Homo sapiens: one gene and its partner. The protein of the gene in region 2 interacts with the protein of the main gene of each other region in a pairwise test. Each region holds a gene or a part of one and is shown on either strand. Other genes may lie near its edges. The genes, in order: PTS and THAP10.

Region 1 (4,067 bases), on a different chromosome or scaffold from region 2:
TACAAGGCAACTTTACAAAATTTCAAGTTGTAAAATAAAGTCAGGCCCAGCTGTCGGTAATGATTAGGAATCCTTGTTACTGAATAAAAAGAGGTGAGAAACCAAAAAGCAGAGAATTCCTGGAGCTTTCTCGCAACACAAGCCATTGTAATTCAGAATTCAGTTTAACACTTTGTGAATCCTGTCCAAACAGTTAGCACAAATATTTTTCCATAACACTGTCACACCTACGGAACAATGCCACAATATCATAAGGACAAAGATCCAGTGACTACTACATTTTATAAAGCAGACCTAGACTGAAATTATGTAAGTAGTTCTAAATTTTTGCTATGAGGAATAATTTAAGAATGATCTTGGGCTCATAGAAGGAAAAATATATATATGTAAAGACTATTACTCCCTAATGCTCGTGTATATTAACATAATGTTTTTCCTCATCATCAGCAAGGATTAAATTGCCTCATTCTTTCTAGGTTTTTGCTTTTAGCTATTGCAAAAAATCTAAGCATCTGTGAAAAAAAAATGTAATTTTCCATAGGACGTAGTTTGAAGAAGGGTACATTAATAACAGTAACAGCAATCATTTCTTGAGAAAAACTAGAATCATACAAAAAGAGTAAGTCCTAGATCAAACAGTTATTGAAATATATCCAATGAAGGGATGTTCCACATGAATAACAAGAAAACGGGCATCCTTGCTTCATCTTCAATCCCAGTTCCAGTCCCAATTTCTCCATTAAAGCCTCTTATGCAGGGCTTTTTGTTTTCTTTTGTTTTGTTTTTAGAGACAGGGTCTCTGTCATCCAGGCTGGAGTGCAAGTGGCATAATCATAGCTCACTGCAGCCTTGAACTCCTGGACTCAAGCAATCCTCCCCCCACGGTAGAGCTCTAACTTTACTCTACATGCCATGATAAGCCACTTTTACTGATGAAAGTGTGTGGTGTCCTTCAGGCATACAAAAGCAGAAAACAGCATAGAGAAGCCCTCCTCCAGTATTTAGTCATATGTTGAGGCCTTTTATGTTGCTGTCTTGTCTCTTTTCTTTCTTTTCTTTTCTTTTCTCTTTTTCTTTTTCTTTCTTTCCCCTCCCCTCTCCTCCCCTGTCCTCCCCTCCCCCTCCTCTTCTCCTGTCTCTGTCTCCCTCTCTCTCTCTCTCCGCCTGCCCCCCAACCCCTGCCCCATAAATGCATGCTGGCCCTATCTGTATAACTTTCCTAAAGTATTTTGAGCATAGTGCTGTTTCTTCATTCACTCATTCTTCTACTCATTTATTAAATCAACAGTTATTTAATAATATTCTTCACCTCCTAGAAAAAGTAATGTATACACTCTGTGGGCTACATCTCATTCATCTTTGTACACTTAGCTCAAAAACTGATGCGAAGTAGAGAAATTTGTTGAATATATGAATAAGTAATGTGAAAGAAGTAATCATTACTAATAACATCATTTTAATCAAGCAAATGTCAAATCTCAGAACAAACCTAAGCTGCAAGTGAAATGACAGCATAATAAAACAGCTGGAAGGAAAGAAATCTACTCCCAGCTTTGCAAATGACTAGCCATATGACCTGGGGCAAGTCAGTTAACTGTTCAGCATCTCTCAATCTTAATCTATGGGTTGAAGAAGTTGGTCTGAATAATCTCCAAAGTCTCTTACAGTGCAAGAATTCTATAATGACACAATCAGTTAAGTTCTTCATTGAACACCTTGTGTGTTATCTCTATGAGGTACTGCTCTGGTGAGTTTATAATAAAGCTAGAATGAACAACACAGTGTGGTGTCTAAATCTATGATCAAAGGTACAAGGAATATTCAGAGAGGGAAGAGAAAGCTCCAAGGAGAAGGCCAGGAGCAGTAGCTCATGCCTGTAATTCCAGCACTTTGGGAGGTCAAGGCAGGAGGTGTCTGAGACCAGCCTGAACAACATAGTGAGACCCCTACCTCTACCAAAAAGAAAAGTTTGCATTGGTTCTGTGCCTATTTAAAAAAAAAAAAAAAAAGAAAGACAGTAAGTCTCAAGGAGAAAGCTATGTCTTAAAAGAAATGGAGAATTTGTTAACTGAAGGAAATCAGGATATTCCAACAAGGAATACAAGGTGAGCATGTTATATTTCCTCCCATCGCTGTAACACAACTGTGACTAATTTCCGTTAAGTCACCAAAACACCTTTAGAGGCCATGCGAGCAGTTCTTCCAACTATTCCCCAACACCCACATCCAGTTCTATTCACAAAGTCATGGAACCTTAGGAGATAACTGGTTGGGGAGGTAGATAGGGGGCCACCAAATATTACAGTTAGGGAATAGCACATAATAAGCACCCAACATGCCATTACCTCCATATATTTTTTGAGATCAGCCAGATTCATAACCATTCCCGTAGCAGGGTCAATCTAAAGAATAAACAAAGGTGAATATTACTGTGATAGGCTCTCCATATTAAACGGCTGGCAAATTATTAAAGGCAGTACAATGTGCAGAGACTGTGCCCACATTTGCACATTTGCCTTCATCCCAGAGATAATCATTGACCTCAGCATGGAAGCACCATGTACTTCAAGCATCCTTTTCATTGTATAGCCCTTCTACCTGTCCACATACAGCATATTAAAGACAACACTTTGGTAGAGGAGAGGCCTGGAATGGCGGCAGCTCACCACACACACATATACAAGGGCCAACAATGAAGCAATACTGACTGGAACAGTTTTCAACACAGAATCCACCACACTGGCTGAAAGAGAGCCCAGCAATCTGCAAAAACCACACAAATATTTTCTGCACATACCTCTCCATGTACTGTCACCACAACTATGGAAAGAAAACAAAATACAAAAAAAACAGCATGACTTTCAACAGATCAACATCCAAGCACAAGTTAGCAACATACAAGCACAAGTTGGCAACATAAATTATTAGATCTGTCCCCAAAAGCTATACTTAAATATTTACCCCAAAACATCTGTTATTTTAGTTAAGATTTTTTTTTTAGCAACCAAAGCAAGACACAATCGAGACAAAGGAGCTTAGTAGGAATGTTGGCTAAGCAGAGGCACTCGGCCAAGGCTGAAAAGGGTGTAAATTCTGCTTATGTTAATGCACTAGGGAGCATCAAGATGCTGCTCAGTCTCTGCCTGTAGAAGTAGAAAATGTCTTTCAGGTGTCCAGCTACACAGCAAGCTGGTCCAATACTGAGCAGTACCTTTCTGAACAAGCAATACTACTGGGCCTTAAATTCTTGTCCCCTTACTCACATGAATGTATACAAAGTCTAAAGTAATGCTTTGTAAATTAAAAAGTGCTTGTGAGAAGCATTTGAAAAATCTTGGCCAGGCGTGGTGGCTCAAGCCTGTAATCCCAGCACTTCGGGAGGCCGAGGCGGGCAGATCACCTGAGGTCTGGAGTTTGAGAGCAGCCTGGCCAACATGGTGAAACCCCATCTCTACTAAAAATACAAAAATTAGCCAGGCATAGTGGCGGGCGCCTGTAATCTCAGCTACTCGGGAGGCTGAGGCTGGAGAATCGCTCGAACCTGGGAGGTGGAGGTTGTAGTGACGGGAGATCACACCATTCCAGCCTGGGCAAAAAGAGTGGAACTCCATCTCAAAAAAAAAAACAACAACAACAAAAAAAAACTTTATCAGTGCTTTACACATTAATAACTTTTATGAATTTATGTATTTTAGTTCTGTACAAATACCATTAGATATTACATGTAAGTGAGTACACTGAGACTGAGATACCATAGATTAAGGAAGAGGCTGTAGCTAAACCAGTAATCCTAATCTCCTGACACCTTGTCTGTTTTTTTTTATGCCACCACACCACATACTGTTTTATACTCTACGACTTATGTACCTGTTTTTTAAGGCAGGCTGTACCTCAAAGAATCAAGTCTCTTATCCTTGAACAAATTACCTACTTTCTTCGAACACTGCTGGCAAAGCTTTAGACCAAACCTATTTTTCTGCCATACATTACATTCCTAGGCAACATTCCCCTTTTGTCAGTCATTATTTACTCAAAGAATAAAATCTAATTTTAACATTAGCCTTGGC
Region 2 (3,600 bases):
TAAACATGATTAATAGACATCAGTGGAACACTATCCAAGTGCAGTACGCACATTCATCTCAAGTACATATGGAACATTTAAAAAACTATTTTGAGCATGTTACAAGTTTCAACAAATTTCAAAAAATTAAGTCCATATATTGCATTTTCTCTGGCAGTAGTGTAATTGACCTAGAAATCTATTGCAAAAATTTAACTAAAAAATGCCCAGAGATACGGGAATTAAAAAATATACTTCTAATTAACCCACGAATAAAAGATAAAATCACAATGGAAATTAGATATTTTATACTAAATAATAAAAATACTGCATACCTAAAACTTGTAAGATTCAGTAAAGCCATGTTAGGTGGGGACTTATAATCTTTAATGCATATATTAGGATAGGAAAATTAATTGGGCTTAATTTAGGTTAGAATTATTAATATCATGCAAAAGGTATTCCACAAAATATCTCTAACATAGCCCCCTCTCAGGACCCAGATTTTCCTCTATCAACACCACTTTACTGAATTCTACATTTGTGAAATAAGCTTGTGAAACTTAGCTGCACCATTTAACATTCACCATAAAAATTCTGAAAATCAATGATATAATTTAACTTCTTAAGAAGTTAAAGACAGAGCAGTGGACAAAATTTTAAAAAGCAGAGGAAGGGAATAATGAATAAGTGAAATAAATGAAAAAAAAATTCTAGAGAGATCAACAAGGCAAAGTTTGTTCTTTGGAAAGACTAATAAAAATTGATAAACCGGTGGGGTGCGGTGGCTCACGCCTGTAATCCCAGCACTTTGGGAGGCTAAGGCAGGTGGGTCACGAGGTCAGGAGTTCAAGACCAGCCTGGCCAAGATGGTGAAACCCCATCACTACTAAAAATACAAAAATTAGCTGGGTGCGGTGGCAGGCACCTGTAATCCCAGCTACTCGGGAGGCTGAGACAGGAGAATCGCTTGAACCCGGGTGGCAGAGGTTGTAGTGAGCTGAGATTGCGCCACTGCACTCCAGCCTGTGTGACAGAGTGAGCCTCTGTCTAAAAAAGAAAAAAAAAAATCGATAAACCATCTGGTGAAGCTGATCAAGAAAAAATGAAAAAGCAAAAATTACCTCAGCTCAAACAGAATTTTTTTCAAATACAAGATTATCATGAAGGTTTTGTGTCAATACATTTAAAAATTTAGATGGAACAGACAAATTAAAAAATACTATTAATCAAAATGGATAAACAAAATACTATTTATCAAAATGGATAAACAAAAGAACTCTGAATAACCTTATAACAAAGAAATTGAATCCATCATAAAAAACCTTTCCAAAAGGAAAACTCCTGTCTTATCAATGAGTTCTACCAAATATTAATACCAAATTTATTAATGGATATATGCCATTTTATATAAACATTTCCAGAGAATGAAAAAAGAAGGAACAATTCCAAATCTGTTGGCATAATCTTCATACCAAACCTGAGAAAGGCATTCCAAGAAAGAAAAAAACTGTAGAACAGTTTCACTCGTGCACACAGATACAAAAATCCTAAATATTTTATTTTAGCTAATATTTTATTAAGCAATATGAGAAAGGAATAAAACACTTTGACCAAATTGAGTTTATTTTAGCCATGCAAGTTTGACTCTACATTTTAAAACCAATCAATATAATTTACTATATTAACATAATAAAAATGTTATCCTTAATAGATTCAGAACAACCATTTGATAAAATTCACCATTATTTATAATCTAAACTAGAAATAAAGGGGAACATTTCTTTTTATTACAAAGAGAGCTATAAAAAACTATAGTAAAAATCATAATCAAATGGGGAAATATTAAAGGCTTTCCCTCTGAAATTAGGAATGAGAAAAGGATTCCCCTCACCTCTTCTGTTCCCACACTGTACTGGACATTCAAGCCAGTGCAACAGGAAGAATACGAAATAAAAACACGAATATCAAACGCTTTTCTCAGATGATATTTTTGTACATGTATAAAATTCAAGAGAATTTATAAACTATTGAAATTAATAAGTGAGTTTAACAAGGTTTTTGGATACAAGTTCAACAAAAATTAATTTATCAATATGCACTTATAGATTATAAAATTTAAAATACCATTTATAGTAGCAAAATCAAATAGCTGTGAATAAATCTAATGAAAGATATGTAAGACCTCTACATCAAATGCCACAAAACACTTCTAAGAAAAATTTAAAAACCCAAATAAATGGAGATATATGTTCATGGATTAGAAGAGTCAATATTGTCAATATGCCATTTATTCCCATATTCATTTATGAATTCCATGGAGTCATAATCAAAATCCTCGTGAGTAACTTGTGAAAATTGACAAATCAATTCTGAAATGTATCTAGAAATCTAAAGAGCCCAACATAGTCAAAATATCCACAAACATGAACAAGGTAAGAGGTATTAATCAATTGAATATTCTTAATAAAGCTATATAAGACACTGTGATACTTTTGCTTAGGCAAACAGATAAGTGAAACAGAATAAAGTATGTGGAAACAGACCTATGCATATAAAGGGCACTTGATTTATGACAAAGTTGACATTGCAAGGCCAAGAAGAAATGCTAGTAGTTTCAATAAAAGATGCTGAGTCAAATGGGTATCAATGTTGGGGAAAATGAAACTTAAATCCTACCTCACACCAAACACAAAAATCAATTCTGAATTAGATCTAAATATAAAAAGTAAAAACAACAAAGTTTATTACAAACAGCATAGTAAAATGTTTTAAGTATTAAGAATAAGGAAAATTATTGGTAATTTGGACTACATCAGAATTAAGAACTTCAGTACATCAAAAGACATTATTAAGAACCAAGAGGCAACCCATAGTGGGAGAAGATAAAAACATTTAACTGAAAAAGGACTTCCAGGTAGAATCTATTAAAAATTCTAAATCAACAAGAAAAGACAGACAATCCAACAGAAAAATGGGCTAGATTTAAAAGGGCATGTCACTGAAGGCTACCTAAATATCCAATTAATATTTGAAAAGGTGTTTCCTTACTAATTTCATCAGTAATCGGGGGATGAAAAGCAAAAACATTACTACGCACTCTGCAAATGGACTCAGATGTGAAAGACTAGAAATCCCACGTATAGGCAAGAATGTGGAACAATGGAAACTATCAAACTTGTGGTAGAAGTGTAAATTGGTACAAGTATTTTAGAAAACTATTTGGTATTATCTACTGAAGTTTAATGTAATACTATGACCCAGCAATTCTAGGTATATATCCTCAGAAATGTGTGCACACGTGGACCAAAACACATATACAAGAGTTTATGGTAGTATCACTTATGATAGCCCCAATGGGTAAAAACCCAAATGTTCAACAATAGACAGACAAATTTTGGTATATTCATACAATGGAATACTACATAATAATGAAAATGAACTACTGTTCTATGCAACAATATGGATGAATCTCAAAAATGTAATGTTGAACAAAAGAAGCCAGACACAGAAAATGGCTACAGTATGATTTGATTTATATGAAATCCCCCCCCCAAAAAAAAGCAAACTTGGTTACCTTTGAGGAGAGGGGAGGGGCTGGATATGGGGTGATATAGGGAC

What was found.
Region 1: the proteins of THAP10 (region 2) and PTS interact in binary tests that used the Homo sapiens proteins (3 or more experiments, as listed by UniProt).

What each region holds. Positions count from the first base shown.
Region 1 is NC_000011.10:112,228,961-112,233,027, reverse strand, and holds part of PTS (6-pyruvoyl tetrahydrobiopterin synthase), read right to left. Parts: intron 2,821-4,067; coding exon 2,798-2,820; intron 2,403-2,797; coding exon 2,346-2,402; intron 1-2,345. UniProt on the Homo sapiens protein: Involved in the biosynthesis of tetrahydrobiopterin, an essential cofactor of aromatic amino acid hydroxylases. Catalyzes the transformation of 7,8-dihydroneopterin triphosphate into 6-pyruvoyl tetrahydropterin.
Region 2 is NC_000015.10:70,885,834-70,889,433, forward strand, and holds part of THAP10 (THAP domain-containing protein 10), read right to left. Parts: intron 1-3,600.